Homo sapiens: one gene and its partner. The protein of the gene in region 2 interacts with the protein of the main gene of each other region in a biochemical or structural test. Each region holds a gene or a part of one and is shown on either strand. Other genes may lie near its edges.

Evidence for each region.
Region 1: the proteins of GAS7 (region 2) and CYFIP1 form a complex in vitro, tested with the Homo sapiens proteins (one study listed by BioGRID).

What each region holds. Positions count from the first base shown.
Region 1 is NC_000015.10:22,942,163-22,945,972, forward strand, and holds part of CYFIP1 (cytoplasmic FMR1-interacting protein 1), read right to left. Parts: intron 2,778-3,810; coding exon 2,700-2,777; intron 2,498-2,699; coding exon 2,396-2,497; intron 1,193-2,395; coding exon 1,011-1,192; intron 1-1,010. UniProt on the Homo sapiens protein: Component of the CYFIP1-EIF4E-FMR1 complex which binds to the mRNA cap and mediates translational repression. In the CYFIP1-EIF4E-FMR1 complex this subunit is an adapter between EIF4E and FMR1.
Region 2 is NC_000017.11:10,188,425-10,192,234, reverse strand, and holds part of GAS7 (growth arrest-specific protein 7), read left to right. Parts: intron 1-3,810. UniProt on the Homo sapiens protein: May play a role in promoting maturation and morphological differentiation of cerebellar neurons.

The DNA of each region.
Region 1 (3,810 bases), on a different chromosome or scaffold from region 2:
AAATTCTGCCTGACCTAGCTTGACTCCTACTGCTGCCTCATTTTGTCCCAAGTGGGTTTTTAAAATAAAGACATAGCAACAGTTGTATGATTTAAAATGCAACATAACTAGAGCATATTCAGATGCAAAGTAAGGTCTCTTCGAATTTAATTTTAGAGCTAAGATGCCTTACTTAGCAGAGGAAATTGAAATTAGCATCTCATTCCAGCAAAACATGTCTTCAAAAGCACTGAGCACAGATGAAGCAGAGCAAGAGCATCAGGAGACAGCGTGCCAAGTGTCACCAAACGCCGGTCGGCAGCGTGCCAAGTGTCACCGAACGCCGGTCGGCAGCGCGCCGAGTGTCACCAAATGCCCATCGGCCACCCACTGCCCCACACTGCTCCAGAAGCACACACTGGGCCATGCCTGCCTCTTCCGCTCGTCTTGCCAGCCTCTCCAGAGGCTAGCTTCTCCAGAAGCTCTCTACATCCAGAAAGAAAACCACCAGGGAGAGGATCTGGAAGCGCAGTGTGACCACGAGACACCCTGTGACTGTGCACGGGCCACGTCTGCACATTGCTGGGATGGTGCTCATGTGCTGGGGACCCCCGCTGGCGAGTGACCGGCACCGAGGACTGCAGCCCCAACGCCCAAGGTAGGCTGCAGAGGCCACCTGCCCCCTTGCCAAGATGCTCCCTGAGCCAGATGCCTGTGCTCTGTGAGCTAGGCCTACATCTTGTGCATGTCTGTCTTCCCAGGGGCTCGAAGGTCCTCTGTGACATCTGAGGACAGCCAGGGCACGAAGAGCCTGCTCTAGCTGTGCAAAGCCACGATATGCACTTATCTGCTGGCTCCCCTCACCTTATCCCTCGAAGCAGGTGCTCACACAGCCCTGACACTGAGACGTAGCTGCTGCCTACCAGAAGTGACGACTTCAGCAAACAAAGACGCACACCTGCTGTGCACAAGGCAGGCCACTGAGCTGGGTGCTCTCGGGAGGGCCCGCAGTGCGCGAGGTGGGTGCTCACCTCTTGTACGCTGAGTGGTCGTTCTTCACACTGCACTTCATGTTCTTCAGCTCGTCCAGCACAGCGAACATGTTGATGAATTTGCCCAGTGTGATCAGGTAGGCTTCTGACACGAAGTCCTTCCTCCTCTCGGCATGGCACAGGCGCCTCACTTCCCCGCAGAAACGCTCAATGGCATTTCTCTGTGCAGAGGAAGCAGGAGGGCAGAAAGCTGCAGGTCAGTGAGGAGCCAAGCCCATGTCCCTCCTTCAAGCACCTGCAGTCACTGCTCCTCGATGAGAAACGATCTGCCCAGTGAGGCTCCAGGCCGAAGTGTTTACAATGTGGGCAACCAGACCCCTTCCTGAAAGCAGCTCCCACTGCCTGCTCTGCACCATCATTACTTGACTTGCACTTTACCAACTACATCACTAAAGTAACAAAATCTTGCTGATTATTCCAGCAAAATTACTGAGCAAAATGCTCCAATAAAACGCCTGTAAAATTCAGATGTTCTAACTTTCAGAAGTGAAAACTGGGAGAGATTTTTTTCCTCTTGGTAACTTTCAAGGTAAAACAAAAATTCATCTCCCAGTTAGTTCCATCTCCTCCCTTTGCTGAAGGACATCATCATAAAAAATCTGGATGTTTCCAAAATACTTCTTTAAAAAGCAGCAAGCCCCTTCCATGTGGCTACTTCTTGCCTAACCAAGGCCAGGGCGAGGACCACCAGGAATGGACAGTCAGGGTGAGGCTAACAGCAAGAAAATACCTGAAAGAGCAGACGAAAACAAAAGTACAAATTGGCCAGGCGTGGTGGCTCACACCTGTAATCTCAGCATTTTGGGAGGCCAAGATGGGCAGATCATCTGAGGTCAGGAGTTCAAAACCAGCTTGGCCAACATGGTGAAACCCTGTCTCCACTAAAAATACAAAAATTAGCTGGGCGTGGTGGCGGGCACCTGTAATCCCAGCTACTCAGGAAGCTGAGGCAGGAGAATCGCTTGAACCTGGGAGGCAGAGGTTGCAGTGAGCCGAGATCATGCCATTGCACTCTAGCCAGGGCGACAAAGCAAGACTCTGTCTCAAAAAAAAAAAAAAAAAAAAAAAGTACAAACTGGCAAAAAGTCAAAGCATTGTACTTGAAACTGACAGAAAGCAGGCTCCATGAAGGAAACATAAAATCACTCTCAGAGAAGAGAAGTGAACCACAAAAGGAGCGTTGATTCCGAAAGGGCATGAGGAACTTTAGACTGTCAAAGGCTTGGTCCCTTTTGTCTCAGAAACTGGTTGCTTTAATTTGCAGGCACTCTGTTCAGGGTGTTCACAGTGACAGTGATGGGTAGGAAGGGGTCAGCAACCCACCCCTCGGTGTTACACCCCCCCCAGATTATTTGCCATTTTACCTGGAAGTACATGAAATTCATCAGTTTTGTGACCTCAGGCTCCAGAACCTCCACGGTTTTCTCGTAGATTTCCACTCTGTTAGGCTGCTCGTTACATTTCACCTGGGAATAAAGGAACAAGGATGACATAAGAGGCTTTGATCCAGCCAGAAGCAGCCGCTGGGCTTCTAGAGCTAGTGATCCCGCCCTGCTGTGGGGTGAGAACTGGGAGGAGAGTGGGCCAGGCATGGCAGGGGCAGGGGTGTGGTGTGGCAGGGGCCTGGCAGGGTGTGGCTGGAGGGGAAGAGCCAGGCGAGCGTGGCACCTGTGGGATGGCCCGGGAGCAGCTCCTCCAGGTGTACAGCATGACAGCATATTCTTGGCCCTCCTCCAGCATCTCGTTCTGCAATGGAACACAGGGCAAATCAAAGGCAGGCGGGGGAACTAGCATGAAAAGCAGATGCCAGTTGCTAAAATCCAGACAAAGCGCCACAAACTATCCTAAGCACTGTGGCCTGTGTGCCAAGAGACGGCTGCCAGAAGCTAGTGACACTGAGGTGCGGCGCTGGGGGCCACAATGACCACCCAAAACACCCCATGGCTTCTGCAGGCGAGAGGGGTGTCAGTGACACGCAGGCATCTCTGAGGGGTGCCACAGGCGTTACACCTTGGCTCCACCCAGCCCTCAACAACCTGCTGGCCATGAGACCTGCAGTTAGGAACACAGAGGAAGGGCTCAGGGCAGACGCCCTGCCCGGTGTGAGCACACACAGGATCCCCATGGCCTCCTCACTGGCTCACAGGGCCTCCCGGTCCCAGAGAGGACTAGAGGCAGGGCTGCCAGCCCCGGGTGTGCAGGAGGAAAAGTTAGGAGCACGCCCACAGCACTTAAAATCTAGGTAGAGAGTCCATGGGAAGAGGACTGTCATCACTGCTGTAAAACTGCTTTTGCTTTCCACTCTTTAACATCGTTTCCTTTGGAAAAAATCAAATAGATGCTCTTAAATCTAGCCTTTATTTAGTGAGACGTTCATCACAGTATTTTTTTTTTTTTTTGAGACGAGTCTTGCTCTGTCCCCCAGGCTGGAGTGCAGTGGCACGATCTCAGCTCACTGCAACCTCTGCCTCCCGGGTTCAAGCAATTCTCTTGCCTCAGCCTCCTGAGTAGCTGGGATTACAGGTGTGCGCACCACCATGCCTGGTTAATTTTTGTATTTTTTTTTTTTTGTAGAGACAGGGTTTCACCATGTTGGCCAGGCTGGTCTCGAACTCCTGACCCTAGGTGATCCGCCCACTTTGGCCTCCCAAAATGCTGGGATTACAGGCGTGGGCCACTGCGCCCAGCCTACAGCATTTTTTTATTACACGACATAAAAGAGGAAGTCAATGCGCAAAAATAGTTGAATTGTGGACATTTACAAAATGGTTTACGTAGC
Region 2 (3,810 bases):
AGGCTTCTGGGGTGGTATTTATGCCTATGGCGAGAAGAAGAAGTGGCGGCTGGCAGATCTCTCTGGCTTTTCCTTGGCTGACCAGAACATGTTGTGACGTTGTGAAAGTTTAGTTGCAGTAGGTATATGAACTGTGAGAAGTTTTTGAGGAGTCTTAAGAGGATCCACCCACCTCCTTTCTTCACGTTTTCTGTCTTCCCTACCATCTTTAAGAATTTGTTTTTAGTTTAACTTCCTAGTTCTCCGTCTACTACTCTTCTTGAGCTTGGAGCTGGTTTTCAGATTCAACCTCTAGGTACTCAAATTTCATATGTCAAAACTAAACTCATCATCTCTCTCCTCTTTTTTTTTTTTTTTTTTGAGATGGAGTCTTGCTTTGTTGCCCAGGCTGGAGTGCAGTGGCGTGATCTCGGCTCACTACAACCTCCGCCTCCTGGGTTCAAGTGATTCTCCTGCCTCAGCCTCCTGAGTAGCTGTGATTACAGGCTTCCACCACCATGCCTGGCTAATTTTTGTATTTTTAGTAGAGGTGGGGTTTCACCAGGTTGGCCAGGCTGGTCTCGAACTCCTGACTTTGTGATTCACCCGCCTCAGCCTCCCAAAGTGCTGGGATTACAGGCGTGAGCCACCGTGCCCAGCCCTCTCTCCTCTCCTTACTGCCTTTTTTTTTTTTTTTTTTGACACAGGGTCTTGCTCTGTTGCCCAGGCTGGAGTATAGTGGCATGATCATGGCTCACTGCTGCCTTGACCTCCTGGGCTCAAACGATCCTCCAAGTAGCTTGGACTATAGGCACCTGCCACCATGCCTGGCTAATTTTTGTATTTTTTGTAGAGACAGGGTTTCACCATGTTTCTCAGACTGGTCTCAAACTCTTGGGCTCAAGTGATCCTCCCACCTTGGCCTCCCAAAGTGCTGAGATTACAGGCATGAGCCACCGTGCCCAGCCTCTTCACTGCCTTCTGTTCCCAACCTCTAAACCAAGCTTGTGGAACATGTGGCCCAGGATGGCCTTTGAATGGGGCCCAACACAAATTTGGAAACTTTCTTTTTTTTTTTTTGAGACGGAGTTCCGCTCTCGTTGCCCAGGCTGGAGTACAATGGCGTGATCTCGGCTCACTGTAACCTCTGCCTCCTGGGTTCTAGCGATCCTCCTACCTCAGCCTCCTGGGTAGCTGGGATTACGGGCATGCGCCACCACACCCGGCTAGTTTTGTATTTTTAGTAGAGATGGGATTTCTCCATGTTGGTCAGTCTGGTCTTGAACTTCCCACCTCAGGTGATCCACCTGCCTTGGCCTCCCAAAGTGCTGGGATTACAGGCGTGAACCACCGTGCCTGTTCTTAGGTTTGTAAACTTTCTTAAAACATGAGGGTTTTTTTTTTTTGTGAGATATATATTTTTTAGCTCATCAGCTATAGTAGCGTTAGTGTATTTTATGTGAGGCCCAATATAATTTTTCTTCTTTCAGTGTGGCCCAGGGAAGCCAAAAGATTGGACACCCCTGCTCTAAACTTTAGTGAATGTCACCACCATCTGTCCACCAAGTTCCCTGATATCTCTCCCCTTACCTTTCCTCTCCTGTTCAGTAGGCTAGCAAGCCTCGTCCCTTCCCTTCTTCCTTAGAAGCATTTCTTTTTTTCTTTTTTTTTTTTTTGAGACGGAGTCTTGCTCTGTCGCTCAGGCTGGAGTGTAAAGGCACGATCTTGGCTCACTGCAACCTCCACCTCCTGGGTTCAAGCGATTCTCCTGCCTCAGCCTCCTGAGTAGCTATTACAGGCACGCACCACCACGCCCGGCTAATTTTTGTATTTTTAATAGAGATGGGGTTTCACCACGCTGGTCAGGCTGGACTCAAACTCCTGACCTCATGATCCGCCCGCCTTGGCCTCCCAAAGTGCTAGGGTTACAGGCATGAGCCACTGCGCCCGGCCAGAAACATTTCTTAAAGCCTTCTCCTTCTTAACTTGCGTTGGCAAATCTTTCTGTAAAAGGCCAGGAAACATTTTAGGCTGTGTGGGCCATGAGGCAAAACTGAGTTACGGCTGCATCGGTGTGATCTGTAGTGCGCCAGAGGCAGTGACAAGCAGTGAGAGCATCCCATATGGTCTCTGTCACAACTAATCCACTCTGCTGCTGTAGTGCAAAAGCAGCCAGAGATAATCCGAAAGCCAATGGGCGTGCCTGTGTTCCAATAAAACTTTATTTATGGACTGAAATTTGAATTTGTTATAATTTTCATGGGCCGTGAAGTATTATTCTTCTTTTGATTTGTTTTCAACTTTTTTTTTTTTTTGGGAGATGGAATCTTGCTCTGTTGCCCAGGCTGAAGTGCAGTGGTGTGATCTCGGCTCACTGCAGCCTCTACCTCCTGGGTTCAAATGATTTTCATGCCTCAGCTTCCCAAGTAGTTGGGACTATAGGCACCCGCCACCACAGCCGGCTAATTTTTGTATTTTTAGTAGAGATAGGGTTTTGCCATGTTGGCCAGGCTGGTCTCCAACTCCTGGCCTCAAGTGATCCACCCTCCTTGGCCTCCCAAAGTGCTGGGATTACAGGCTTGAGCCACTGTGCCCAGCCAGCCATGTGACTATTTGGGGGAAAATAATTTGAGGCTGAGGGGGACTGCAGATGTACATAACCCTGAGTAGAGGAGTGTGTTTGATAAACCTGGGAGAGCCAGAATATTCCAGAATGGTTAGAGTGGCAAGTAGGGGGAGAGGGGTTGGGGGTGTGCCGGGGAAGGAGATAGAACCTGGGGAGATGGGTCATTTTCTAAATGCAGTGGAAAAGCCTTTGGTTTGATTGAAGTGGGTGGCATCTTCGGATGCGTTCTGGAAAGCTCTTCTAGACTGCAGGGTGGAGAATGGATTTGAAGAAAACAGGGAGGGGAGGCAAGGAGACCAGTTGGGAAGCTCAGAGCAGGGTGGTGGAAGTGGAGATGGTGAGAGGTGTGTGGATTTGGAATGTATGTTGCAGCTAGTGTCAACAGGTCTTGCTGGTGTGTTGATCGGAGGGAGTAAGGGAACCTCAGGGGGTCTCACTTCTTGCAGGTCACTTGTAATGCACTTTTTCCCTTTTGTATTTTCCCCATCTGTCCATCCTTTATTCTGCCACTAGAAATCTCTTCCCAAAAAAAAGGAGGTAAAAGGCAAATACAAATTTGGAAAAAGTTCCTTAATGTAGAAAGTGCTTTTATAAATTAAAACAACAAAACCCAAAACAAAGAGGAACATATCAGTATAAGAATGGGCAAGGAACTTGGATAGACACTTCATAATAAAACATATACAGGCTGGGCATGGTGGCTCATGCCTATAATCCCAGCACTTTGGGAGGTTAAGGTGGGCAGATTGTTTGAGCCCAGGAGTTCAAGACCAGCCTGGGCAACATGGGGAAACCCAAATTTTTTCTCTATAAATACAAAAAAATTAGCTGGGTGTGATGGTTCATGCCTGTAGCCCCAGCTACTCAGGAGGCTCAGGTGGGAGGATCGCTTGAACCCGGGAGGTCAAAGCTGCAGTGAGCCAAGACTGCACCACTGCACTCTAGCCTGAGTGAAAGCGTGAGACTCTGTCTCTTAAAACAAATGAACACACACACACACAAAACCATATAAAAAGTCCTCAACTATTTAGTCTCGCCAGTGATTGAATAATTGCAAATTTAATTAAAAAACAGCTTGAAGACAGAAATATGTAAAAAAAAAATGGTATTGGCAGGGTGTAAGGAAATGGTCCTGAGCTTCCTGAAGGACCATTTGGCACTGTACAATTCCACTTCTAGAAATTTCTTCTCAGGGAGCATCTGAT